4 linked regions of the Homo sapiens genome follow. The protein of the gene in region 1 interacts with the protein of each later gene in a biochemical or structural test. Each region holds a gene or a part of one and is shown in the gene's direction. Other genes may lie near its edges.

What was found.
Region 2: of the proteins of MBP (region 1) and MAP3K3, one has a biochemical effect on the other in vitro, tested with the Homo sapiens proteins (one study listed by BioGRID).
Region 3: of the proteins of MBP (region 1) and RPS6KA5, one has a biochemical effect on the other in vitro, tested with the Homo sapiens proteins (one study listed by BioGRID).
Region 4: the proteins of MBP (region 1) and TLK1 form a complex in vitro, tested with the Homo sapiens proteins (2 studies listed by BioGRID, with this or other methods).

What each region holds. Positions count from the first base shown.
Region 1 is NC_000018.10:76,982,770-76,989,794, reverse strand, and holds part of MBP (Golli-MBP), read left to right. Parts: intron 1-882; coding exon 883-918; intron 919-1,267; coding exon 1,268-1,300; coding exon of another isoform or gene 1,301-1,705; exon of another isoform or gene 1,706-2,092; intron 2,093-4,584; coding exon of another isoform or gene 4,585-4,591; intron 4,592-4,900; coding exon 4,901-5,020; intron 5,021-5,642; exon of another isoform or gene 5,643-6,068; intron 6,069-7,025. UniProt on the Homo sapiens protein: The classic group of MBP isoforms (isoform 4-isoform 14) are with PLP the most abundant protein components of the myelin membrane in the CNS. They have a role in both its formation and stabilization.
Region 2 is NC_000017.11:63,688,408-63,695,432, forward strand, and holds part of MAP3K3 (mitogen-activated protein kinase kinase kinase 3), read left to right. Parts: intron 1-119; coding exon 120-187; intron 188-381; coding exon 382-474; intron 475-685; exon of another isoform or gene 686-768; intron 769-1,136; coding exon 1,137-1,328; intron 1,329-1,856; coding exon 1,857-2,005; intron 2,006-2,065; exon of another isoform or gene 2,066-2,585; coding exon of another isoform or gene 2,586-2,630; exon of another isoform or gene 2,631-2,673; intron 2,674-2,694; coding exon 2,695-2,826; intron 2,827-3,325; coding exon 3,326-3,455; intron 3,456-3,834; coding exon 3,835-4,012; intron 4,013-5,141; coding exon 5,142-5,370; 3' UTR 5,371-7,025. UniProt on the Homo sapiens protein: Component of a protein kinase signal transduction cascade. Mediates activation of the NF-kappa-B, AP1 and DDIT3 transcriptional regulators.
Region 3 is NC_000014.9:91,057,642-91,064,518, reverse strand, and holds the start of RPS6KA5 (ribosomal protein S6 kinase alpha-5), read left to right. Parts: upstream 1-3,877; 5' UTR 3,878-4,084; coding exon 4,085-4,187; intron 4,188-4,394; exon of another isoform or gene 4,395-4,501; intron 4,502-6,877. UniProt on the Homo sapiens protein: Serine/threonine-protein kinase that is required for the mitogen or stress-induced phosphorylation of the transcription factors CREB1 and ATF1 and for the regulation of the transcription factors RELA, STAT3 and ETV1/ER81, and that contributes to gene activation by histone phosphorylation and functions in the regulation of inflammatory genes.
Region 4 is NC_000002.12:171,045,879-171,052,903, reverse strand, and holds part of TLK1 (serine/threonine-protein kinase tousled-like 1), read left to right. Parts: intron 1-2,729; coding exon 2,730-2,840; intron 2,841-2,953; coding exon 2,954-3,090; intron 3,091-6,541; coding exon 6,542-6,730; intron 6,731-7,025. UniProt on the Homo sapiens protein: Rapidly and transiently inhibited by phosphorylation following the generation of DNA double-stranded breaks during S-phase. This is cell cycle checkpoint and ATM-pathway dependent and appears to regulate processes involved in chromatin assembly.

The sequences.
Region 1 (7,025 bases):
GTTCCAGGCAAGCGCTTCCCGACTGTATCTGCCACGGATTGCACCGTGCGCTCCGTGCGTTCTCCAGAGAGCTCACTTCTCTTGAGATTAGGCTCCCATGTAACGCTTAGCCTAAAAACACAGGCTTTGCAACCTATGGAGAGTGCTTGCCATGGGCTGGGAGCGGAGGGGGCAGCAGAGAGAGCACAGGGCATTTTTAGGGCATTTTTCGGGCAGCGAAACCGCTCTGTCGAGGCTGCCATGGTGACTGAAGACCACGCACTTGTCCAAACCCACAGCGTGCACAGCACCGAGAGAGCCCTAAGGCAGTGTTGCTAATAAGGGAAACTGTTCGGGGTATGTGGAAACTAATTTCTGCACAGTTTTTCTGTAAACCGAAAAGTGCCATGCAAAACGAAGACGATTAAAAACAAGAACAAAACCACAGGCTTCTAATTCCAAGATCTCAGTGCAGCAGACATTTTATGCTCGTATTCGATAAGTGCACTTAGGAGCTGCAGACCTGGGGACATCCCCTTGGAAGCTCTGAATGTCAGAGGGCCCGCTACTCCTAGCCCCGGAAAGGGCTCACGGTGAAGCAAAGTCCGCCGCCTCCCTCAGTGTCCCAAGATGGGCCCATTCCCCAGCTACGGAGCCTCTGGGAGGTGTTTTCCATCCTCTGAAACACTTCCTGAGTGCTCTGGGAGATCTGCATCATCTAGAATATTTTCAATCTCAGGTCTATACTTCTTCACCAACTAGGACAGAAGTGGGGAGGCTGGGCACCCGGGTGCTTCTGGCAGCTGATGGATGCTAGCCACCCTCAGCAGGCAGGAGCCCGTTAGGAAATGGACGGCGGCACAGGGCTCCCAGTGCAGCCCACGGTTCTCTGTGTCTTTCCAGGTGACGCCTCGCACACCACCCCCGTCGCAGGGAAAGGTAAGACCTTGGAATGTTTTGATTGATCATCACTTTTCTGATAGACCTTCTCTAAAATCCCATAATGTACCAAAGAGAGAGTTAGGCTCCGAGCTACCAGAATCCATCCCAAAACGTGTTGCCAGGCAGCTCCCAAGTAGAACAGGTCGGCAGATCCATGCACCCCTCCTGTCCCTCCCGCACCTGCACAGCCGCTGTGGCCCTGAGCCTGCGGCCCCCCTCGGAGCTCCGGGTGGAACCTGTTTTTACCACCTCAGCTCCACTGTGCTTTGACTGTGTTTCCTGTTGATTGAAAGGACTTTCCCTTCACTGACCACCATGTCATTATTTCTCTGTCTTCCTCATGCAGGGGAGAGGACTGTCCCTGAGCAGATTTAGCTGGGTAGGTGACGAACGCACTTCCATCGGCTTCCTCTTCCGTCCCAGTCCTCACAGCCCCGCAACTTTTGTGTTCTGCTCTGTTTCGGTTGCTTCCTGGCCTCCTTTTCTCTCCTCTCGAGACCTCTCTGCCCACAGCTGGGATCGGGCCGCCTTGTCTTCCACTGGGGAAATGAAACGTGGTCTTCCCTTCCGGAAGGTCTGGTCTCTTGCTTCTGTGCCGGGGACCCAGCCCTGCAAGGCCAGATCCTCTTCTCCCAGAGGGTTCCCAGGCGACGTGACTGGTCTCCCTCCCAGGGAGGGAGCAACACCACGTCCGAGAAAATGTTTAACTTCCTCCAACACAACCAGTGCGAGAAGCCCCAGGAACCCGCATGTGGAAGTGGGACTGGCTGGCCCGTCTCAGTGACCCCAGATGCTGACACTGGGAAAATGATTCTGCTGATGAACAGAAAAAGAGGCTAAATAGAGTTGCTCGATTTATAATAACCTCATTAATCCAAAGATTTTTGTTTTGTATGTGTTTAAATAATAATTAAAACATAGATATCAAGCCATCCAGAAAATCTTCCTTAGGAATTTTAGGCTGGTTAATACTGAAAGCAAACTTTCAAGGAAGGTTTAAAATGGCCAATTTGAACTTTCTAGTGAAAAAATTTGGTGTCTGAGCCAAATTAAAATGCCAATCATTATATTCTAACCAAACTTACAGACTTTAGTTACTAGCAAATACCAGATATGATTCTTACTGTATAAAAGTTATAATTTTAGAATAAAATGGAGGAATAACCACCAACGTATTGTAGATAGGTTGTGTCTGTCTCCGAAACTGCAATGCTCTCATACGCTAGAACAGAGCCTACCTACACTTTCTGCTCAATTAATAAGCATCATATAAATGAATGAATACATTTTAAAAGAAAAACAACAAGGAGAAAGAACAGGAAGAAAGAACAGGGAAAGAAAACAGAAGGTGGGGAAGAGGAAGGAAGAGAGGGAGGAAGGGGCAGGGTACTTGAGAGACCATGAGGATCCCAGATCAGTCCCACACATGATTACACTGAATTATGAACTAAGATATTTACCGAAACGTTTTCCATTAATGCATATTTGACTTGCTTTTTCTGACCTAATGAATTTGCAAAACGATGACAATCATGTAGCAAATGTACATGGACTAGTACTCACAATTAATTTTTTATTTTCTATGCCAGCAGGAGACAAAGATGATAGAAGAATGAAATTCATTTTTGACCCAGAAATCTTATTTTAGCTACTGCTTTATCTGCTCTTAATTTTCTAGGAGTGGACTTTGGGGCCGTCGTGCCGGATCCTCCCTGAATGTGGAGCGATGGGGGGTTGCACACAGGCCGTTCTGCCCCAGCAGCTAACAAGAAAGACCCTTGCATTCCTCCCTGCATCTCTCCCTTTTGGGTCCTACTAATGTCTGTTGAATTTCTCTTTTTTCCAAAGCAAAATCCTTCTCTGCATTTTGTCTGCTTGTCTGTTTCCCAGAGCCGCAGGACTCTCTCCTTGTCTGGAGTTCCAGAGAGCCCCCACTTTCTCTTTCTAAGCTGTGTTGTGTGTTTCCTGGTACATTCTAGGTTCCCCAAAGATAAACATGACTAAGGATTGGAAAGGAGGAAAGGCCGCGCAGATTGTTAATCTGAAAGTCAATCCCCGGATTTAGCTCTCAAAAATGCTTTATTTTTGGAGAAAAGCAATAGAGTAAGACAGAAGGACTTAACGCTTGCAGGGAAGTGGCTTTCTGCCATGTAGAGCCAGGCTGGCAACCTGCCCTCTGCCATCAGGGAGTGAGCATGAACCTGGAAACCTCTAGGACGCAAGAGCGAGGCTGGCTGTCCCCTCGTGTGCAGTGCTTAGACCTTCTTGCCACACATCCCGTCCCTCACCTCACTGGATAGCCCCCGAATCAACTGTTCACACGAAAGCAGCTGCCTGGTTCTGAGTGGCCATGCTCACTCCCAAGCACAGGCTGAATGAAAAGAAAACTGTGCAAGTAGCTTGTATGGTGGGAAGCCCCCAGCAGAGGCTGAGGGTGCAGCCAGGTGCTCTGGAAGCCTTGAGGCCTCTGGTGTCATCTTCCTCACCTCTAAATAAGAGATGGGCTAGGTTGGTCAAGGTCCTCCCTGTCCTAAAACACTTTAATGAAATGGAAGAAAGGCTGCAGGCTGATAGAGGAGGGACAGTCTGGTTTGGTTCCCTCAAGTCTTCAGGAGAGGGCTCAAGGACAGTCTCCCATTTCTTGTTGGCAAAATGTAAAGTGCAGTCTGGACCCTGTCCATTGAGTAGAGACTCAGGAGGCCAACCAAGATCCCTGAAAAGCTAACAGCGTGGTCAGCCTTCCCACAGACAGTGCACCCACCGTGGGAGGACACTTCGCCCCCCATTGTTAACGTCCACCGCGCCCAGACTCCCACAGCGAGCTCCTTCCCTTCCTCCCCATGTTTGCAGTGGAGTTCCCACTCGAGAAGACAGCACAGTAGCAAGTAGAGGCTGGTCCTGGGACACTCGCACCCATGTGTGTCAGGAAGCCCCTGCGGTCACACGGCCCATGAGGAAGCCAGAGGGGCTGCTGGGGCTGATGAGGCCAGGGCAGGGCGGCCTGCTCTTCCATAAATGACAGCTGGCACCAAAGCCCAGAGCTGGCAGCCTCCACCTGAGGAGTGGCATCTCCATGAACGGCTTGTGTTCTCGCACAGCCCCATTGCGTAGATGAGGAAACTGAAGCTCAGAGAGGTTCCTGCCCTTGCCCAAGGCCACACAGCCGGATGAGCTAGAAAGGTGCTAGGGGACTGGGAGGTGGGGGAGCTGAGACGCTGTCCCGCTGCTGCCAGGATGCGGCCGCCCCCCGTGCCAGCCAGGCCTGCCTCCTCCCTCTGTCCGGCTCAGCAGCCCCGGCCTCCTGTTGCTCCCAGTCCGAGCTATGGCCAAGGGAGACTGATTCCTGCTCACCCTGGGAGAGAGCTCAGGATTTTGTCTCAAAACCTTATAAAAGATACGAGGCTCGACATTTTACTAAGGCCGAGGACTCTTGATCTCCCAGACAGATCCTAGAACCACAGGGCACATGTGACCAGAATCCAATCTGTGCAAATCAATCAGCAAAAGGAGCCCCCAGCAAAGGCGCAGGCCGGGGCCTCCGGGGACCGGCACCTACACAGCGCACAGCCCCCCAGGGTCCGAGTCCTCCAAACCCGTGTAGGCAGGAGCCTCCTTACCTTGATTTGCTTGATGTTTGCTAATCTTCTCTTGAACACCCCACAGCGTGAAGGTAAGCAACTGTTCCCTAAACGACTTAGATCCTTAAAATATGTGTGGTTGGGCCGCATATCTCATGAGAGAGCCTCCGCCCAAACCAGAGCCCTCCTCTCTCTGCGGCCAACACCCTGGTAGACCTGGGGGAGCAGCCTCTCCCGCCCCCACCCCCTCAGCGTGGTGCTGGCCCGTGGCTCCTGAACCACTCACCAGTCCAGTCCGGGGCCTGGGCCCTTCCCCGGGGCCCTGGTGGCAGCTCCCAGTGGCTCAAGCAGCGTGCCCAGCACCGCGGGTGGAGGTTGAGCTCCGTGGTCTTCTCTTGCAGGGGGCCGAAGGCCAGAGACCAGGATTTGGCTACGGAGGCAGAGCGTCCGACTATAAATCGGCTCACAAGGGATTCAAGGGAGTCGATGCCCAGGGCACGCTTTCCAAAATTTTTAAGCTGGTAAGGTACCCTCTGCTCAGCTCCACTGAGCGGGGACTAAGGGCTCCCAGAATCCCCAACTAAGCTGAGTACAAGGGTGGCTGCCGCCTCTGGCTCAGCCGCACTGTACCCTGGACGTGCTCTGTCCCAGCAGGCGTGCAGGGGCTCAGGTGGCATTGCCCACCCGCATTTACGCGTGGATTTCCTCCGAGATGCATGTGAAGCCGGAGGTGCTTGAGGAAGGGCTGCGCCTGGGCTGGTTCAGGGGCCCTGGAGCAGGCGACTGACCTTGACTCTGGGGCAGGGCCCAGCTGGAGTCCAACTTGCTCATGCCCAGGGGTTGGGGCCCTCAGGGAGCTAAAGCAGGAGTCAAGCAGACGTGGGTGTCGGGGGGAGATCCCTGGAGCCACGGGAGGGAATGCCCAGGAGACCTCCAGGGAGTGGGGAGTGTCCCGTCGGCTCATGAGGACCTGGAACCAGACCCAGGACGAATGCCAGGCCCGCTGTTTATAAGCTCTGTCTCTGAGACTTGGTTTTCTCATCTGTAAAATGGAGGTAACCCGCCCACTCAGCTCACAAAATCGCTGTGAAAGTAAAAGGTAGTGACAAACACAAAACGCGGCTGGCAGGTGCGCGGCTCGGATTCCTTAGATAAGCAGTCACCTTTATTATTGTTAAACGTCACCCAGAAAACCCTTAACTCTTAGACAGCGGCTCTCATTAAGCAAAAGGGGAGGCACATGAAGCTCCAGGCAGGGCCGGGAGGGAACCGTGAAGCCAAAGGCTCTGGGAGCCCCCAGGCACCTGCGTTTGCATTTTCATCCTGGAGGAGACCAGGCTTCTGGGGCTGCTCCCCGGGGTGCAGAGAGGAGGGGTCTTTCTTGGTGTGTAACATACTCATTGATTCAGTCACCTGACCTTTGACTCCATGTATTTTGTTGAGTCTGGATGTGTGGTGTGCTCTGCCCAGCAGCGGGGATCCACATGAGCACAGACATGGTCCCCCCGCGTCCTTGGTGAGTGCAGAACCTCTGCCGTGAGCCTCGATTCTGGGAGGTTCTGGGAGGTTCTGTGGACAACAGGCAATTCAGGGCACAGCCCCTGCTCTTAAGGATAGCCGGTCTTAGGAGAAGCTTTTAATATGTGAAGTGAGCAGGGAGTAACTGAGCTGCTAAGTAAGCAGCTTTATGTCAGATGAAGTGGTAGGCAGGATCCACTCCTCAACGTAAATTCTGAGTTAAGAAAAAAATTCTCCAAATATTCAAGTCTCAGGGCCATCATGCTGTACATTGCCGCAGTTCTGGGATGTGGCCACAAGAGGGCGGAGATGAGGCTCCCCGGGGAGCAGTGTCTGAACCCAGCACTGCAGTCAGGACGGCCCCGCCCCACCTGGCCAGCACGTCACCTGCCTCTGAATCGCCTGGGATGCACGCCCAGACCCCTATCTGCGCTCCGCCACAGCCTCACTGAGTCAGAATGTCCAAGGGCGAACTAGGTGTTGCTAGTTGTGATGATTTTGCAGACACCGTGCTCACCTGGGAAACACGGATTCATCCCATCTGGAAAACTAATTACTCCACTACCAGCTTAAGGACTGTTAGACACACCGGGAGAGCTGAGTGCTGGCTCAGAGTTGATGGGAGGGCCCAGATGAGTGAGGGGCCCCATTTAGCAAATATTGTCCTTGCAATATATGCAAGGCTTACAACCAGTCACTCAAAGATGCTTGCAAGGCCAGAGCTTACCAAGACCACCCTGAGGAACAGAAAGCTGCATTTAGATCTGCACATTTACTGTGTGCAAATATAACCAGTGTACTATACACATGTGTTTCCTGAAATAAGTTCAGTATTTTCCCTGAACTTTTTTGTAAGAAGCTTTTAAAAATTATTTAATTTCTGTAGAGTTCAAGGGAAGCTTCTATGTATCAAAGCAAATTTCAAATCATATGGTTGTAATTAAATTTTACTGCATAAAAAGTTCATAACTGGCCTACTATGGCCATATGGCTGAATTAGTTGACTTG
Region 2 (7,025 bases), on another chromosome or scaffold:
AAAATCTGCTTCCCCCACCTAATGCTGTGGCAGGGGTTAGAAAGGGAGACTGCCTGGACGCCCTGCTTGGTTGCTGTGGAAGTGTGCGGGAGTCTGTTTTTTCTTTTTGTTTTCTCCAGCCCATCCTTCCGGAAATCACGAATGTCCCGTGCCCAGAGCTTCCCTGACAACAGACAGGAATACTCAGGTGAGTTCCACAGAGCCTGGGTGGGTAATGCAGGGTGTCTGGGTGGGGCCTCAGGTGGCTCTGCTTCGACTTTTCTGAGTCAGTAGCTCTCCTTGGGCTTGCTGCTTTGAGGTCTCAGGTGCCTTGGGGACTTGGGGGCTTAAGTGGCTCACATTGACCTACCCAGAAGCCAGTGATTCCCCTGTCTTACTCAGATCGGGAAACTCAGCTTTATGACAAAGGGGTCAAAGGTGGAACCTACCCCCGGCGCTACCACGTGTCTGTGCACCACAAGGACTACAGTGATGGTGAGTTCTTCTTCACCTGCTCCCTGCTGGCTGCCTCAAGAAAGGACAAGTTGCCATGGGGAGGGTGGGTTCGTCCATGCAGTGCCTGTATTTTCCTTCATTCCTGAGGATTTGTGGCCCAGACTTGAGGCATGGGAGACAGGAAAAAAACAAAAACAAAAACAGGGAAGATAGTATTTGTAGACCAGATGCTGCCACTGGGAACTCTGACCTTGTTTGAAGCCAGTGGTGTGCTCCAGGGGCACCATCTCTCCCATGTCCTCTTCTGCCCCACAGCAGCAGGTGGCCTGGGCCCTGTAGAGGGGTAAGGAGTAGGATACAAGGAAATCAGTGCCTTCGGGTGTGGCTTGGCCTTGCAAGCAATTGGGAGCCTGTTGGCCAGCCATACACCTTCCCTTTGGCCAGATCTCCCTGAACCAGACTACTTCCTAATTTCTGCTTTTGTCCTGATTCTTGGAGTGCTTGGGACAGCAGCCTCTGTGGAATGAGTCAGGTGGGAGTGCGGACGGGATGGGCTGGAGCTGGTATTATCTATCACTTCTGGCTGAGACCTGGTTTGTATATTCCGCCTTGTAGCCCGGGGTGTCTCAGACCTGGTTTGTACGTTCCGCCTCGTAGCCTGGGGTGTGACTTGCTCTCCTCTGGCCCTTGCACCCTTTCAGGCAGAAGAACATTTCCCCGAATACGGCGTCATCAAGGCAACTTGTTCACCCTGGTGCCCTCCAGCCGCTCCCTGAGCACAAATGGCGAGAACATGGGTCTGGCTGTGCAATACCTGGACCCCCGTGGGCGCCTGCGGAGTGCGGACAGCGAGAATGCCCTCTCTGTGCAGGAGAGGAATGTGCCAACCAAGTGTGAGGAGCTGTCCCTGGCTAGGAGGAGACTGCCCAGGTGGTCTCAGACAAGCTACGGGGGCAAACAGCTGGGCCCCTGGGACCCTTAGGCTCAGCAGGTGGTGGCTTTGGCCCAAATGCACCACATGGGATAAGCCTTGGAGTGTCTGAAGCCTGGCTCCACTATTGTGTGACAAGCCTCTTCTCCTCTCTGATCTTTAGTTTTTCCATGTTTAAACTAGGGAAGAGCACACCCTTCATCCCTGCCATATTAAGATATTTAGGGGCTTTGGAAGGAAATGCATTTGATCAATGCAGAAGAGCATTTAACCATGACTTCAGCCAATCCTCTGCTTCTTAGGACTCTGACTTCAGGTCCGAGTGACTAGGGCACTGGGCTTGCTCCAGATTGTGGTGGAGATGCTCTACTAAGAGATGATGGGTGCTGGGTGAGGGGGAGCCTGAGCCAGAGACCCTGTTCCTGGAGAATGAATGGGATATTCATAAATAATGTACACAAAGTAACTCTTTCCTTCTGCTCTCCTGTAGCTCCCAGTGCCCCCATCAACTGGCGCCGGGGAAAGCTCCTGGGCCAGGGTGCCTTCGGCAGGGTCTATTTGTGCTATGACGTGGACACGGGACGTGAACTTGCTTCCAAGCAGGTCCAATTTGATCCAGACAGTCCTGAGACAAGCAAGGTACACTTAACCCGTGGTCTGACTTCAGTTCCCTCCTTTCAACAAAAATGCCTGTCTTACCACACAGAGTAGTTGCCTGAGATGCTGTAGGTTGCTTCCTCTGTCATTCTTCCCAAACTCCCTTTCTGTCCATCCTGGTCCCAGCCACAGGGTGAAAGGACTGTGGTCTGAAGAGCACCAAGCACCTGGAGGGGAGGGATTGGGTGTAAGGAACTAAGCTGATGCCAAAGTACCAAGTAACCCAAACTGAGAGGTGATGACCTGTGACACAGAGGGGACTCCCTCCCCTAGACAAGTATCTCTCCCCAGCTCTCAGCCCAGGAAGGAGCTGTGGGGCTCCTTCACTTGGTCCAGCTCTAGAGGAGGAATCATATGGCCTGTCTTTGCAGTTCAGCTTTCAACGTCGCTTATACTTCAAGTTCTGTGGACAAACAGCAGTTACCTTAACTAAGCACCCACGGCCCCTTCTCCCACCTCCCTGCCTCCTTCCACCCATGGGAGTGCCACCATCCCAAGGCCTGCCCAGCATTGTGGCCAAGAGCTAGACAGTTAAGAGAGTCCCCCTTTTCTCCAACTGCAGTTCCCAAGGCAGATCCCTGTGAGGCCACTAACTAGGGCAAGCTGAGCTGAACCCAGGCGGGCAGAACTAGGGCCCTGAGAGCTGAGGCGACCACTGACCCCTCCCCTAGGAGGTGAGTGCTCTGGAGTGCGAGATCCAGTTGCTAAAGAACTTGCAGCATGAGCGCATCGTGCAGTACTATGGCTGTCTGCGGGACCGCGCTGAGAAGACCCTGACCATCTTCATGGAGTACATGCCAGGGGTACGTGCCCCTTGAATGCATGTGAGACACACACAAAAGAGGGCCTGACCTGGGGGCTGGGGCCTGCAGGAGGGGGGTCACCTTGGATAGGAGTTTGAACACCTGAGGCTCCAGAGGCCCAGAGGAGCAAAGTGAGGTGATGGTGGGACTTGGAGTCAGGAGGGCCCTGCCTCAGGTTGCAGTGGGAGTATGAGATGACAGCTGTCCTAGGTCCAGCACTCCCCTGAGGCATGCAGGGCTGGCCCACTGTCCAGTAAATGCAGCCTTCATCTGGAGCAGAGAGGCCTCCCTGCTCCTGGATTTGGGTGGCGCTCTGCTTGAGAAGGACTTGGGGTACTCTCTTTTCCAAACTGCCTGACAGCTCCTGGCAAAATGCCCTGCCCAGCCAGATAGGAATTGAACAAATCACTCCTTTGCTGCCATGCTGGGGGCTGGAATGGGCTTGCCCCTCCACCAGCCCTCCCCTGAGGGGACTCCTCTGACTTCTTGTGGCCTCCAGGGCTCGGTGAAAGACCAGTTGAAGGCTTACGGTGCTCTGACAGAGAGCGTGACCCGAAAGTACACGCGGCAGATCCTGGAGGGCATGTCCTACCTGCACAGCAACATGATTGTTCACCGGGACATTAAGGGTGAGCAGGGCCAGGATACATGGAGTCCCCAGGACCTGGGTTCAAGTCTACCATTGAGTGCCTGCAGGGGCCAATCACTTAACCATTCTGAACTTTCTGAAAAGTGGGACCCCAGTTGTTTCCCTGAGGAACTGGTGAGATTGGTTGAGCAATATGAGAGAATATTGCCAAGTTCCCTCTACATGTGGGCCTTGGAGATGGTCATTTTGTGCGGTAGATCTGAGACTCCCCTTTGCTAAATCCTTTGCCCTTTGCAGTTCATGTCTAATTCAGTGGTAGCCCTGCCCTCTCCAGCAGCTCTCAGTGACCCGGGGGTGGGGAGGATGGGAGAAAATGCAAGAGGGTCCAGGGTTGCAGCCTCTGCCCTTTCATGCCTCAGGAGCCAACATCCTCCGAGACTCTGCTGGGAATGTAAAGCTGGGGGACTTTGGGGCCAGCAAACGCCTGCAGACGATCTGTATGTCGGGGACGGGCATGCGCTCCGTCACTGGCACACCCTACTGGATGAGCCCTGAGGTGATCAGCGGCGAGGGCTATGGAAGGAAAGCAGACGTGTGGTGAGCACTGGGACATGCAGAACCCATTCTTCCACCCAGGCCATAGTGGCCCCCCATTAGAAACACACCCTGGGGACTTTGTGGTGTGGCAGGAGGGAGTGTGCCCAGGGCCCAGGCTGCAGTGTGTGCAAGGGTATTATTGGGTGCAGTAGCACACACACCACATGGGTGGTGCTCAAAGCACACTCCATTAGAGCTGGGAACTTAGGCCATGGAAAACATCCCTCATGTTTGCTAAATCTCTTAAGGAAGCAGGATCCACTCTGAAGGCCTGAAGGCCTGGACCAGTCTCTCAACAGGAGCAGGCTTCTGTCCCTTCTCCTAGCACTCAAGACAGTTTGCACTTGCTCGACATAACCTTGTGTCTATCCTCTGAAATGGCCCCTAAGTCAGGAGAGCTTCTCCCCTTGGAAAGCTATTGTGGTGGGCTGAATAATGGCCCCCCCAAAGATGTCCACTGCCTAATCCCTGGATCTGTAAATGTGATTGTATATAGCAAAGGGCCTTTGCAGATAGGATTAGGTTAAGGGTTTTGAGATGGATGGATTATCCTGGATTAAGGGTCCTTACAGAAGGGTCTCAAGAGGTCAGAGTGGCTAATAGGAGGTGAGACAATGAAAGCAAGAGGTTGGAGTAATACAAGGAGGGGACCATGAGCCACGAAATGCAGGTGGCCTCTAGAACCCAGGAAAGGCAAGGAAACAGGTTCTCCCCTCAGAGCCTCTGACAGGAACCAGCCCTGCCGCCACCTTGACTTTAGCCCTGTGAGACTGATTTTAGACCTCTGACCTTCAGAACTGTAAGATGATACATTTGTGTTGTTTTCCTGCCTCTAAGTTTGTGGTCATTTGTTAAGAGCAGCTATGGGTAGCTAATACAGTTATTGTAGAGTTCTTTCTGTCAAGTCTAAGTGATTCTCTTTTTCCTTATTTCAAGAAGTACCCAGGTGTGTGGTGAGTGTAGGTCCATGAAGCCCACGTGGACAGACATCCAAGCTGAGGTATCCCTCAGCTTGGCCTGTCCTGCACCTCAGCTTGCTGTGAGAAAGGCGCCTCTTTCTGCAGTGGTGGGCAGGACAGCTGGGAGTCCAGGGCTGGCTGAGGGGTGACACGGGGTTCTCTCTTTCCAGGAGCCTGGGCTGCACTGTGGTGGAGATGCTGACAGAGAAACCACCGTGGGCAGAGTATGAAGCTATGGCCGCCATCTTCAAGATTGCCACCCAGCCCACCAATCCTCAGCTGCCCTCCCACATCTCTGAACATGGCCGGGACTTCCTGAGGCGCATTTTTGTGGAGGCTCGCCAGAGACCTTCAGCTGAGGAGCTGCTCACACACCACTTTGCACAGCTCATGTACTGAGCTCTCACGGCCACACAGCTGCCGGTCGCCCTTTGCTGCATGGCAGGGGGCTGCTGCTGGGCTCAGTGAAGTTGCTGCTTCTCCCAGGCAAGGCTGTGGACCATGGAGTGGCAGCCCAGCCAGCGTCGGTCTGTGCCCCTTCCGCCACTGGGGCTCAGAGCCGGGGTGGGGTGGCTGCAGCCTCAGGACTGGGAGCCCCCAGCCTGTCAGATCCAGGAGCTCCAGTGTCCTGAGCTCAGCGTGGAGGGGTAGGGGCTGGGAACAGTGTGCAAGGCAGCCGTGGGCCCCACCCTCGGGGATGTGTCCTGACACTGCAATTGGCACCGAAGCCCAGAGGGTCTGGGGGCACAAGACTGACGCCAGGGTATGAAGAGTGTTATTTTCATTCAAAGTGTTATTTTGTTTTTCCTTCCAATGTCTGGAGACCACCAGGGCATCTCTGGGCTGGATGAGCTCCCACAAGCCTGAGGGAAAGGCCAGCACTCGCTAGCAGTGGCAGGCAGAGGCCCAGGCTGCCGTCCCCTAGAGTCCCAGGTTGGCTCTGCCAGTCCTGTCCTTTACCAAAGATGAATGAAGCAAATGTCATGCTGCCTTATTCAGGGAAGGAGGAGCCTGTCCTGCCTGTGGCCATGACCCTGCCTCTCCCAGGCAGGGGCCCGCGATGTGGAACTGCTGCCACTGAGGGGGGATCCAGTTTTGTCAATGCAGTTGTCTCTGTTTTACAAGTTGGAGTCACTCTTATGCTGTACCCAGTTTCTAAACTGGAGACTGTGTGTGCCCTCTGGGCTCTGAGTACCCCTGCTTTGGGCTTGGGCCTAGGCTGCATTGAAAAGAGCTGAAGGTTGTGGCCTTTGCGCTCCTGGCCCAGCCTTTGTTCCCCACTGGAGCAGAAGGGGAGATGGACGACACGGTCGGGGCATCTGGCCTGGCCAGTGCCCTGATCCCAGAGAGCCCGAGGAGGTGTCTCAGGCTGCCTGAGTCGTGACCTGCTAGGCCAGAGCCCACTCCATCTGGTAGAAGGGAAAGCCCATATGCTACCACCAGCTGTGTCCAAAACCGCCAGCTCTGTTCTTCCTCAGCCAGCCTCGCCCATCCCCTTGAGGTCTCAGCCCCTTTCCCTTGTAGCTCCTCCCCTGGAGGGGGAATGGCAGCAGGGGTTGGGGAAACAGCATCTCCAAGCAGCTTAGAGTTGGCCATATTTACCTCAGCCTGGGCGCTGGTCCTTTCTTCCGGCCCCTCCCCTCCAAAATGTGCCTATTGCTAGAGCTCCTCCCTCTCAACACCCAGTTTCCTTGGGAGTTGTCATTAAAGGAAAAAAAAAAAAAAAAAAGCCAGTGCCCAGGGATGGGCATCTCCAGGGAGCTGGGGATTAGTGCCAGGCAGCCCTGCCAGCCATGCCTACATCCCCATGGGCACAGAACAAGCCAAAGCCTTCGTTGTATGTTGACGATGCACTTTTATGAATGTAGTTTCTATCGCTGTTTTTAGCCTTTTCACATCATGTAATGTGAGGCCTTGTACTTGTTAATTTATATCTCAGATCATATTTGATGGTTTTTATATATATCAATTCTAGACTGTTACAGGTGACGGACGCCTCAAGAGAGAGAAGAGAAAATGAAAGCAGCTGGTTTTGCAGAAGTGTGTGTCGCATG
Region 3 (6,877 bases), on another chromosome or scaffold:
CCCGAGTAGCTTGGATTATAGGCATGCACCACCATGCCCAGCTAATTTTTGTATTTTTAGTAGAGATAGGGTTTCACCTTGTTGACCAGGCTGGTCTTGAATTCAAGCGATCTGCCCATCTCAGCGTCCCAAAGTGCTGAGATTACAGGCATGATCCACCGCACCCAGGCTTCTCCCTAGGTAATCTCATTCGTACCTCTGGCCTCAAATGTCATCTATGTGCCAGTGATTCCTAAGCTTACATCCCTATGCTAGACCTCTCTTCAGAGCTCTAGACTCATATATCCACATAGCTACTTAATTTTGGCCCTGGATGTCTCAAAATTAAACTCTTGATGTTCTCTCTCATATGTGCTCTTCCTTTAATTTGTCCCTTTCATTATTAAATGGTACTGCCATCCTCTTCCAGCCACTAGCTGCTCACGCTAGAAACACTGGTGTCATTTCAGATATTTCCATTTTTCTCACTAACCAAGTCTAATCCTTCAAGTTCAAAATATAAACATAGAAATGTTCCATTTCTCTCCATCTCTACTGCACCCACTCTCATCTTTTGCCCAGATTACAGTGATAGCCTCCTAACTGGTCTCCTTGTATCCCATTTTGCCTTCTCCAGCGCAGTCTCCAAACACTAACTTCAGTGACCTTCTGAAAATACTACCACGATTATATCATTCCTGTGTTTAAATTCCTTCTACTGCTTCCCACTTCACACAGGATAAAGTCCAAAAATATTAATAAGAGCAACCACATACTTCCTGACCGGGCCTCTGCCCACCTCCTGAACCTCATCCCTTGCTTACTGCATTAAGGCTCCACTGCCTTTCTCAATCTCTCAACCGAATAGGCTCTTTGCCTGCCTCAGGACATCTTCCTAAAATTTTGATCCCTCCATATTACACATATGAAGTAGTATAAGGCTAGATTATGCTTTGGTAGCAAATAATCCCATCTAACTAGCTTATGCCTAAAACGGTGTATGTATTGCTCACATCACAGTCTGACATAGGTCAGGTGGCTCCTTAAAGAATTAAGTGGAAACTCAGGGGTTCAGAGTCCTCCCAGTCTGTGGCATACCCACATTAAAAATGTGGCCTTTGTTACAGCAGTTGAAAGAGAAGAGTGTGAGTGATTATGCAAGGAGTTTTCTGGTCAGGCCTGAAAATGTTATATATCATACCAATAGGATCTGCCCATACCCCATTGGCCAGATCATAGTCATATGACCCTAACCTAACTGCAAAGGAGGTAAGAAAAAAAAAAAAAAAGTCTTCCTGTGTGTCTAGGAAGAGGAAATGAGATTGGTGAACATCAGGCTACTTTTTGCCACATCCTGGTTAAAACCTACTCATTTTTAAAGTCTCAGCTTAAATAATACTTACTTACAAAGGTCTTCCAGCTCCTCCAACTTAAATTAGGCATCCCTGATACATTCTATTGTAGCACCCTGTAATTTTCCTTTACAGCATGATCACAATGGAAAGTTTATATTTCTTTATGTGATTAATATTTATATCTGTTGCTAGACTGTAGGCTCTATAGGAGCAAGGACTGCATCTGTTTTGCTCCCACTGTGTCTCTAGCACCTATTACAGTACTTGGTATATAACTGGTATAAAAGTTTTCGAGTGAACAAATGAACAGTTGCACACAGTCATTGCCTGGCTCCAAATAGCACATGACTTTTGCAGGAGAAAGACAAGTAAGTAGGCAGTCATGGTTTAGTGTGATGATAAATGTTCCAGGCAGGTAAGCCCAGGGAGCTGTGAAAGCAACCTGAAGGAACTTGCAAGGCTTCTGTGTTTTGTCTTTCACAGCAGTCGAATCCAGGAGTCTGCAAACTATGGCCTGTAGGCCAAATCTGGCTCATTGCCTGTTTTTTAACTGCCCTTGAGCTAAGGATTGTTTATATATATATATATATATATATATATATATATATATATATATATATATATATTTTTTTTTTTTTAGACAGAGTCTCGCTCTGTTGCCCAGGCTGAAGTGCAATGGTGTGATCTCGGCTTACTGCAACCTCCGCCTGCCAGATTCAAGCAATTCTCCTGCCTCAGCTTCCTGAGTAGCTGGGATTACAGGCGCCCACCACCATGCCTGGCTAATTTTTTGTATTTTTAGTAGATTCAGGGTTTTGCCATGTTGGCCAGGCTGGTCTTGAACTCCTGACCTCAGGTGATCCATCTGCCTCAGCCTCCCACAGTGCTGGGCTTACAGGTGTGAACCACTGCGCCTGACCTGTTTTTATATTTTTAAGTGATTCAAAAATAATTAAAAGAAGAATATATTACGATACATGAAAACTATGTGAAATTCAAATTTCAATGTCCATAAAAAATATTCTATTGGAACACAGCTACTTCTTTTATTTATTGTCTATGACTGCTTTTGCGCTACAATGGCAGAGCTGAGTAGTTGTGAAAAAGGTCATACAGCTTGCAAATCCTAAAATATTTACTATCTGGCCCTTAATAGAAAAAAGTGTGCTGACTCCTGATCCAATCCATGCTTAGTTTAAAAGATCACATCTATCTGAATTACGTCCAACTGTACATCTTTAAGTTTCTGCTTTTTCCCATTCTCGTGTCTGCTACTAGAAATCAGGTTCCCTTTAGTTCTATCCTTGCAGCAGGATTCCTGCCCTGCTATCTCTCTCCTCTTTTCAGTTCATCACTGTGTACTAAAAAAAATCTGCACTCTTCAGCACAGCATCCCTAGTTCCCCATTATCTTACCACACCTCACCTTGTCAGCTGTATCTCTTACATCATACTTTCATCTAACCTTATCAATCACTTAACCCACCCTTGCCTTCTCTGCTGTAGGCCAATGCTCACAGTTACTCTCTCTGTGTGGAATGTCTATTGCTGGTATTTCTCTCTTATCCATCCTTTACGTTGGTTATCTCAAATGCCTCCTTGCCCTAAAAGCTTTCCCCAGTTCCTCGTCTGGGAATAATTATTGCCATCCGTGCGAGATTCTCTAACGCTTTGTACGACTGCTTTATTTCAAATTCTGCTTTATAGTTCTTTTGTGTACACACACAGATTGTTTCTCACGTTCTATTGAAAGCTGCTTAGGGGAGGAATTGTATTCTATTTTGTTAATCTCTGCATCCTTTCGGCGCCTAGTAAGAGTCTTGTACGAAACAGAAATGTCTCTCCTTCGTAAAATTCCTCATCGGGAGCTGGGACTGTGAATTTTTGTAACGTTTAAGAACTATCTGTTATTTAAGAACAAACACTCTGCTTAACTTGTTTAGGGTTCACTAGAGCGAGTAAGACCTTTTTAGGGCACGCCGTCTCGCTGGTTGTCACACACGCATGGATCGCTGCCGGGACCCTTAGGTTTGTCTGCAAACACGTGGGTGATAAGCGCTACCCTCCAGGCCCCTCCTCTGTCCACGGTGATTGGCGGACCAAACGTTCCAATCATCCCTCCCCGCCTCTTTCGGCAGTAGCCAATCAGAGACCCCGAGCGCCTCCTGACTACTAGACACTGTTTACTAACAGATCGAAGCTGGGGAATAAGGGGTGTGACCGTTCTGGGGAGGTCAGGGAAGGGAAGGTCTTGACTGCGAGTGCGCACCAGAGGAAATGGGCGGGGCAGAGCTTTGGGTCTCACCAATCGGAGTGGCGGCGCTCCTCCCTCTCCTGCCTCCCCGCCAAGCAACAACAATTCGAGGAGCGAGGCGGGGAGGCTCGTGAAACGTCACAGCGTACTGCCCAATGGGAACCGGCGTTGGCAGACGCGCGCGCCCTGTGTCCAATCAGCGAAGGCGGCTCGAATGGCTCCCTTACCTTGCTGGCTGTGGGCGGAGCGGCCTGAGGAGGCGGCGGTGGAGCAGGGGGCGGTTTGGTTGCGCGGTACTAGCGGTGCCCGCCGAAGGGGGAGGAGGCGAGGAGCGAGCCGTGCGGCCAGAGCGGGAAAGAGACTCGTCTTTGCGTCCGAGTTCTGGAGCCGCCGCACCCCGACTCCTGGGGCCGCGGCAGCGGCTGCGAGGGGACGGGCGTCCGCTGTCTCCTGGGTTCCCCTCGTAGCGACCCGCGGGATCGGAAAAAAAGGAGAAGATGGAGGAGGAGGGTGGCAGCAGCGGCGGCGCCGCGGGGACCAGCGCGGACGGCGGCGACGGAGGAGAGCAGCTCCTCACTGTCAAGCACGAGCTGCGGACTGGTGAGCGACCCCGCCCTCTGCCGGCCGGGCCCGGCGCGGGGGCGCGCCTGAGGGCACGCGGGTGCCCGCGCGGGGCTGGGGGCGCGGGGCCGCAGCCGTGGGCGCGGAGGGGCGGGCCTGGGGCGGGGCGTCGCGGTCGGGGCGCGTGCCCCGGGGGTCCCGGGAGGTGGGGGCGCGCCTTGGGGGAGGCGGCCGAAAGTTTTCCCCAGCCCGGGAATGAGCGGCGGGCACCAGGCATCGGGGCCAGCGCAGCCGCCGACCGCTGCCCGTGGCACGCACCTCCGAGGATGTCGCTGCTCCCCCTTCCCGCACAGGTGACACACGTGTGTCTGCGTCCTGTCAGGGCGAAAGGTGCGCCTGCCTCCGCGTGGGGCGAGCGGCGCTTTGTTTTGGAGAGTGTCTCCCTCCTCCGCCCCTCTGGTCCCCGCGATGGGGGGTCCCGGTGGGGCTCTGTGGAGCCATCCCCTAAGGTGCTGGGGTCCTGTAGGAGATAAACGGGAGGTTTCGCCTCGGGCTTTTACCGAGTCCAGTCTAGAGACAGGAACAGGAATCGCCGGCTCCAGGGATTGAGTGCCTTTATTCTCACTTATCATGAAATACTATACTTGGCCTTGAATTTCCTTCAGAGGTCCCTGGAGATGATGGCTTTAGAAATTTAAAGCTCCAGGTAAAAGGAACTAACGAGCAGGCTTCAGCGCTTACGTTCTAATGTTTGAGATCACTAGCGTTGTCCTAAGCTTTATAACTAATTAAATGTATTCGTGGTGTAGGTTCAGGTTGTTCATTTTGGAAAATGCTTATTCAGACCAATCAGTACAATTTGGATTTATATTCTTGGAGCCCAGTCTCGTATTGTAGATATATTAATACTTTTTTCTCTGAACAGATAGTACATTTTAATGAGTCGTTCGTTATTACTAGATATGTTTGTGAGCGTTGAAGGTTTTTGACAGAGCTGCTTTGGCATATTGGGATTTTTTTTTTTTTTTTTCAGACAGAGTTTCGCTCTTGTTGCTCAGGCTGGAGTGCAGTGGCATGATCTCGGCTCACCGCAGCCTCCGCCTCCCGGGTTCAAGCGATTCTCCTGCCTCAGCCTCCGGAGTAGCTAGGATTACAGGCATGCGCCACCATGCCCGGCTAATTTTGTATTTTTTGTGGGGGCGGGGTGGGGGGGGCGGTCCTCTCCACGTTGGTCAGGCTGGTCGCGAACTCCCGACCTCAAGTGATCCGCCCGCCTCGGCCTCCCAAAGTGCTGGGATTACAGGCGTGAGCCACCGTGCCCGGCCGGGTTATTATTTAATTGTGAAGGCACAAAAGCTTAAACGGCAGGATTCAGGTGTCCACTAGTACATCTTGTTTCTGTTTTGAACAGATTGGAAAGTTAGCTCTGTCCGTCAGTTCTTTCAGTTTTTGTTATTTCTACTGAGATTGCCTATAAGCATTCCATTGGGTGCCAGTGTGGTGACTTAATTCAAGAGAGATGTCAAATTCATGCTTCTTAATTCAACATTTGTAAACATTGTTTTTTTGGTCATTGTGAATCTGTTATACATCTTGAGCCAGCTGTTCCATATTTTTGAGTTCCTAACATAACCTGTATGAATTCAGGTGATTTGGTTTTTCTTCTCTCAATTTCATAGACAACTGATATTTTCAAAAGACCCTGACATGGTTTACTCAGTATACATTTATTCGGATTTGTGCCACACTCAGTGTCAGGTGCTTTCTGGTGTGAAGATTTTGAATTTTTTTCTTGTCTTACATAACGATCCACTGATTTATATGTATGGAATCCTACTGTACAGCAAAAGCTACTTGAAGTCATATGCTTCTCAGCCATCGACTGTGGTGCAACAAGCAGCTTTTTGCTAAATGACCAAGGAGCAACCTGCTTGTTATTAGTAGTTAACCAACTGCTTGGTTTCTGGATTTTGCAAACAATGCTAGTTTTGTAGAAAACAATGAGTACTGCTTTATTTCCCCCTCTCTTCTAACTGTGTGAATCATCAGCTTCAAGTTCGCATTTTAGAAATTTTTCTGATGGATGGTGAGATTATACTGAATTCATTAGTACTGTTAACTGTCAAAGGAAACGAACAATCATTTTGATTTATTACTGAACACTGGAACAACTGACCGGATATAGTGGTCAAAAACACTGTTAAAATATAACTTGAAAGAGTTGCTCATCTTCAGCCAACTGCACTTCTTTCAGCACATGATCTATAATAGGCACCAGAGTAATTTGATCTGATATGGTCCCGTCTCAGAATGTAGATAAGCATCTAGTTATATCAGGCTGGCAGTTGGTGGTGGCTCATTTGTGCAGAACACTTTATTGTATTCCATAGGATGAATGAAAAAGCAAAAAACGTCCCATGAAAGGACATGGAGTTGGAAGACATGATTCTAAATCCCGTCTCTGCAGCTTAATATGTAGACATCGGCAAGTCACTTCACCCTTTCAGATTCACATCTTTAATCTATAAAATGTGAGAATTGAATGAGACACTGTTGGAAAAGTGCTAAGCGGGTTGCTTGGCATATAGTGGGCCCTTAGGAAATGTTGGTTGAATGTATATATAAAAATCATTCCATAATAGTATCTTATCTTGAAGTGTGTGAATTAATCCAGTGTAATTTGGGAAACAAATCACTCATTTAGTGTTTAGCCTATGTCACATTGCCTG
Region 4 (7,025 bases), on another chromosome or scaffold:
CCCAGATAACTTTAATTTAAGACAGCATTGAGAACTACTGGTGTAGAAACTCGATAAAACCAACACCTGTGATCCTACTGTATTTGACAGTGTCTTTAAAACATCCAGTGTGTCTTTTTCCTGATCCTGTCATATTTACTTTCTCACACCCATTTACCATTTAACCACTATTTTAAATTTTGTATTTGTGATGCCTTGGTGTTTCTTTATGGTTGTATTAAATATGTGCTTACATTCTTCACAACATATTATTTCAGTTGGTTTTTGAACGTTAAGTGAAATTTTCCAGTATGGACCCTTTTGCCCAGCTTGTTTTCAATGAAATATATCAGAGAGTCATCCACTTTGATGAGTATAACTGTAGTTTGTTCATTTCATTGCAATATTGTAAGGTGTTACAAGTATACCATAATTTCTGTATCTTTTCTGCTTTTAGTTGACATTTTATTTCTACTTTTTCTAGTATAAACAGTTCTAAGAACATTCTTTGTACATGTCTTCAGGGCACATATGAAAGAATTTTTCTGTGGTATATGTTTAGGAAAGACATAGCCAGAGTACAGGGCATACGCATTTTCCATTTTACTGTATAATACCAGTTATTTCTCAAGGTTTTTTGGTCTGGTCTTTTTTTTCCCCCGCTAAGTGACAGGGTCTCACTGTGTCGCCCAGGCTAGAGCACAGTGGGGGATCATAGCTCACTGTAGCCTCAAACTCCCGGGTTTAAGCAATATTTCTACCTCAGGCTCCCAAGTAGCTAGGACTACAGGCTCATGCCATCACTCCGGGCTGATTTTTTTTTATTTTGTAGAGCTGGGAGTCTACAGGCTGGTATTGAACTCCTGGCCTCAAGTGATCCTCCCACCTTGGTCTCCCAAAGTGCTGGGGCTATAGGCATGAGCCACCATGCCCAGCTGATCTTTCAATATAAATTATTAGTCTTACTGAAATTGGTTTTGGGTATGGCATGATGTAGGGTTTCATTTCAATTTCTTTCTATATGGATAACCAGTTGTTCATCCCCATTTAATTAAAAGCTCATTCTTATACTGCCAGCTCTATCATCATAAAATCTTGTTTCCAGTATACAGGTGGATCTGTTTCTGTGTTCTGTATCATGTTTCCTTGTTCTGTTTGTGTCTCTACACAAGTACTGCAGCATCTTTTTATCATTGTTGATAAAACAATTTTTATCAGTTGTTTTTGGCTGTTAGTAACAGTGAACATAAATAACAGTACTTCAGATGAGATAGAAGCTTATTTTTCAAGAGAAGAACAGAAGTGGGCAGCTCAGATATTATTACTCCTCAGTATCATAAGGGACCTTGTCATTGTTAGTTCATGGCTTATATCTCAAAGGTCACATCAAGGTTCAATATATCTATTAGGGTCACAATTATATCTGTGTTCTAAGCAGATAACAGGAGGGAGGATGGGAGCAGAGAACACAAAGCACAATTCTGTGTGCAGCCTTCTTGGATATCTCATTGAACAACTTCTGCTTGCATCTCATTAACCATCCTTCGCTCTAAGGGAAGCTGGGAACTGTAGTCATTTGGCTAGGCAGATAGCAATCCAGGATAAAACATTGAATTTCCATTATTAAGGAAGGAGGAGGCTTGGGTGATCATAGTTATGTAGCTTTATGTTAAGTCATGATACATGGTTAAACAGATATCCTCTTCTTCTTTTTGGCTATTTTTGGCCCTTCACAGTCTTAGAGAAATTTTAGAATCAGGTTTCAAGTTGCATATGCATCATACACACACAGTGTTGAGATTTTGTTTGAATTGCTGAGGGTCTATTGGTGCTAAATTCTGTTTCCTCTTCCTTGAAAAACAACTGTGTTGGGTATCTAATTTTAGGTTGGCAATTCTTTTCTCTCAGCACTTTTAAGATTTTGTGCCCTTGTCTTGTGGATTCCACCATGGTTGGCCTAGACTTTTGATTCTCAAAGTGTGATCTTCAGACCAGGAGCATCAGTATTACTGGAGAACTTATTAGAAACGGAAATTTTCAGGTCCTTCCTGAGACCTGATTCAGAAGCTCTGGGAATGGTTCCCAGTAATCTGTTGTAACAAGCCCTATAGGTTATTCTCTTGCCACTGTACTAATCAGACTCATCTTTTGATGTTAGAAGGAAGCCTCTTCTCTGAGCATATGGCCACCTACAAAGTGAACAGAATTAGTATCCTATTGCTAAGGAAGAATGGTGAGGACAGTTGTTGGGTAGGCAACTTGTGTATGTCATTTATAAGTTCAGTGGAGAAAATATTTTGTTAGTTATAAGAGATAGAGGAAAACCCACATTTAATTTGTTAATTATAAGAGATAGAGGAAAACTCACATTTATTTTTAAGTGATAGACACTTTATATACCATATTTTAGTTATTTTTAACAAAGTGAGGTAGATTGTGTTGCTTCTATTTAGAAATAAGAAAGCTGAACTAAAGTTCTTATAACTTAGCCAAAGTTAACCTTAGAGTATGGATTTGAATGTATGGATATGGATACAAATTTCCCTGTATGTACTTTCCACTACACACTTAAGTAACATTTAACAGTATTATCTCATGGTTAAGTAGGCTTTTTTTTTTTCTCGTATCATACTCAGATATTTAATATTATTAGTCCTATCTGTATATAATTTATTTAGAACATTAAAACTATTTCTAAGCTTTTCATATTCCCCAGTCTAGACCTCTTGCATTTTCTACTTATGTCATAGGCTAACTGTGATCTCAGACGGCAAATAGATGAACAACAAAAATTACTTGAAAAATACAAAGAACGATTAAATAAGTGCATATCAATGAGCAAGAAACTTCTTATTGAAAAGGTAGGCTAAAAGTTGAGTAAATTTTCGCTTTCCCTTCATTAGCCCCTTTTGCTTTGTATGCTTTTATAAATTAATGAATACAATTGAGTGATGATTTTTTTTCTCCTTTTCAGAGTACACAAGAAAAGCTGTCAAGCAGAGAGAAGAGTATGCAAGATCGATTACGCCTCGGGCACTTTACAACAGTTAGACATGGCGCTTCATTTACTGAACAATGGACAGATGGTTTTGCATTTCAGAATCTTGTGAAGTTAGTCATTCTTAACATTTAAAAGTTTTTAGTATTCGTTTGGGTTTTCATTACTTTAAAAGATTATAGATTTGTAATTATGCTCTCCAGTTCCTCGCTACTCTGAAATCATAGAATTTAGTACCTTTGAAAGGGATATGAAACCAAGAGTATTACAGTTTTAGCTTAGTAATTTCTTGATTAATTAGCAGTCATCTATAGAATGTAATATATTATTCTAATTCTGACTTTCCGAGATATTAATTGAACCTTTAGCTTTACAGATGATGTTTTGAGAGGGAAATTGTTGAAAATTTAATTTTCACTGGAAGATTTGTGTGTGTGTTTATTTCCTAGGATTTTCCTACTTAGTTTTTTCCCATTCCCCAATCCTTACATGTTAATGTTCAGCACTTGCCTGCTCTCTATTCCTAAGGGAAAAAACTTCTCTTTTGCCTCAGATATAATAACTGATTTATCAGTTAAACTGAACATGTGGCTTTAGCGTTTCTGAGGTAAACTCTATTTATTATTTATTTATTTTAATTTCAACTTTTATTTTAGTTTCAGGGAATATATATGCAGGTTGTTACAGGGGTATATTGCTTGATACTGAGGTTCGGGGTACAATTGAACCCACCACTCAGGTAGTGAGCATAGTACCCAGTAGTTTTTCAATCCTTGCCCCTGTCTCTGCCTCCTTCATCTTTGTAGCCCCCAGTTTCTATCATTCTCATCTTTATGTCCATGTGTCTCCAATGTTTAGCTCCCACTTATACATGAGAACATGCGGTGTTTGGTTTTCTGTTACTTTTCAGATCAAACTTTTAAACAGAGGAATTATAGTTACCATATTTTCTTGAGTTCAGATGGTGGTAGAAAAGGATTTATTGGCTGTTTATGTGTTAAGGAGTGCTAAATATGCTACTCCGTTTTTGGTGGAAAATTTTTTTAAACCTGAAAATGGGGAGTAATGCCAGCATGAACATCAGCTTTTCCAGAGTATCCAGTTATTTGAAATAGAGGCAGAACTTACTTTCACATGGTATCACACCAACATTGCTGTTCAAACACTGCCTCCTAGGACTTGCCACAGAATGGCCTTCTCTCTCAGCAGATTTATTCAACTTTTCTTCAACATATCTGTGCTAGTTATACCACAGTGAAACAAAGGATAATGTCCTTGTGATATTAGAGAGTTTGGGTTTCAATTCTGCAGATAATGGGACTTGTTAAAGGTTTACATATAGTGTACGTGATCGGAATGATATCTACAGTGATAGTTGTAGAATAATAACTGATGGTAATGTGAAAATATTATTAGAGGATGAATGTTATTGGTAGTTAAGATGGAGGGGTATCCAGATGAAAGGTGATTAAAGCATGAACTAACATATCAACAGTAAAGTGGAAAGCAGGAGAAGATAATTTTTTAGTGTTTATGAGCAAGAGGCTCTGCTACTAAACCCAGACCGGCAATTGTCCTGCAATGAATAAAAGAGACAGTTATATAATTAATATGAATGTTCTGAAATATAAATTCTACTAGTAGTTCCAATTTCTCCTCTTAACTGTCAGAAAAGAGGCCACAGGTGCAGTGGCTCACGCCTGTAATCCCAGCACTTTGGGAGGCCGAGTTGGGAGGATCACCTGAGGTTGAGAGTTTGATACCAACCTGGCCAGCAGGGTGAAACCCTGTCTCTACTGAAAATACAAAAATTAGCCAGGCATGGTGGTGGGCGCCTGTAATCCCAGCTACTCGGGAGGCTGAGGCACGAGAATTGCTTGAACCTGGGAGGTGGAGGCTGCAGTGAGCCGAGATCATGCCACTGCACTCCAGCCTGGGCGACAGAGTGAGAGTCTGTCTCAAAAAATAATGTCAAAAAAGAAAATAATTACTTGTATGTCCTGACTTTCACTAATAAGCATTTATTGAGGACCTACTGTGTGTATATCAAGCCGTTTATAATTGGTGATATAATCCAGAGTGGTTAGAAGATGAGAAGAGAAATAAATAAAAGTAATAATATTAATCTCTAAACTGTATAGTCATCCCTGAGTAATCAGCTATTAATATCTATTCCAGTAATTCTTTACTTTCCATTAATATTTTAATCATTAGGATTATTATTGCTTATTTGCATTTATACCATCTTGATTGTGCCCTAAAATAGCCTTAAGATTTACTTATTAAAAATTGAAATTTATTCCTGCTTCTAAATGAAAACCGGATTAAAGTCTTGTTCTCACTTTGCTATTCTTGAGATTTTTCTCTACCCTTTCAATCTTCTACCTAGATTCTTCTTGATTTTTTTCACTCCTATCATATTCTGCTACTTTATCACTAAAACCATAGGGAAGGGGATGTGTGTAAGGTCAATTCTGCATTAGCAAAGTAGGAGCCCTTTAGTTGATGTCAGTGGTTGGGGAGAGGAGGGCATGAAATATTTGACTTGCTCTAAGTATTGTAACCATGTAGGATTTGAAAATTTTTTATTGGCATAGTGAGGTGACCTGAAAGAGAACATGGTTACTGTTAGAATAAGCTTAAGGTGTTGTATGATAAGTTGGTTTTAAAAAGCTTCACTGTTAACTACTTTATGCTCTGCTCAAACTGCTAAAATATCTAATCTACATTTTAATAATAGACATGGTATCTATTCGTTTTTAGAATTAGGGAGCTATTTGCAAAATTGTTTCAGTTTCTTGAATGGGAAGCATTGATTTTATTTTTGTTACTTTCCCATTTTTCAGAGCCATGCTAATTTTTCTTGCTATTTTCTTGTCTTTTTCCCCTTAAATTATCAAAAAAATTTTTCTCATAAATTTCTTATATTAAGGTTAATTTGTCTCATTTCAAAACACCAACTTCCCATTACCAATTTTTTTTAACAAAAGTAGATTTAGAAAATAACTCTCTTCACATTAAATTCATATTTGCCTTTTGTAAATTTGTTTGCAAATACTGTGGTGAGATGCATGTGTAACATATACCCCATACTTTAATAGTTTGGGGTATTGTTTTATCTCATTTCATTCAAGAAACATTTACTGAGCAAAGGTAAGTGATGATCACTACACTAGGTACTAGGGATACAACAGTATAAATACTGTATAAATAGACACCATCTGTGTTCTTAGGGAGTGATGTCATCTAACCGGACACTTTCTGATAAAGTATCTATAGGAATAATATTTATTAGAAAGAGTGAGGTGGGGAGATAGAAGATCCCATGAAATTATATATGGCAACACATCTTTCCCTAATCTAGGGGTTTAGAGAATACCTCACTTAAAAAAATTCTTTCAAATGAGACCTGAAGGATAAGTACAAATTGGTTCACAAGAGTGGAACCAAAAGGTTACGAATGTATATTTTATGGTTTTTCATGTTTTTTATGCATTTTTTCCAAGTTTAGCCTTGAAAAGTAATGGAAGGTTAATATGGTTTTATTTGTTTATTTTTACACAGGCAACAAGAATGGGTGAATCAGCAAAGGGAAGATATTGAAAGGCAAAGGAAACTTCTAGCCAAACGCAAACCTCCCACAGCTAATAATTCTCAGGCACCCTCTACCAATTCTGAACCAAAACAAAGGAAAAACAAAGCAGTCAATGGAGCAGAGAATGATCCCTTTGTTAGACCAAATTTACCACAACTGTAAGCCTCCATTTAAAATTTTTCTTTTTTAAAATTGTTGCCAGTGAGCGTGAATGTTACTAATGGATGTTATTTATAATTAATACTTAGATAGCAAAAATGATTAAGACCAGGAAGGAAGGCAGTATTGAAAATTTAGCTCTAAATTAATAGCCCCAAATATCTGAATTCTACCGTTTTAAGCAGAGATTTAACAATTCTCTTTTAAAACAGAGACCTAGGTAGCTAAGAGGTTACCAGAATTCACCCTTCTGTGTCTGAATCAGTTAGGAATCAATTAAAAGTTTTGGATTAT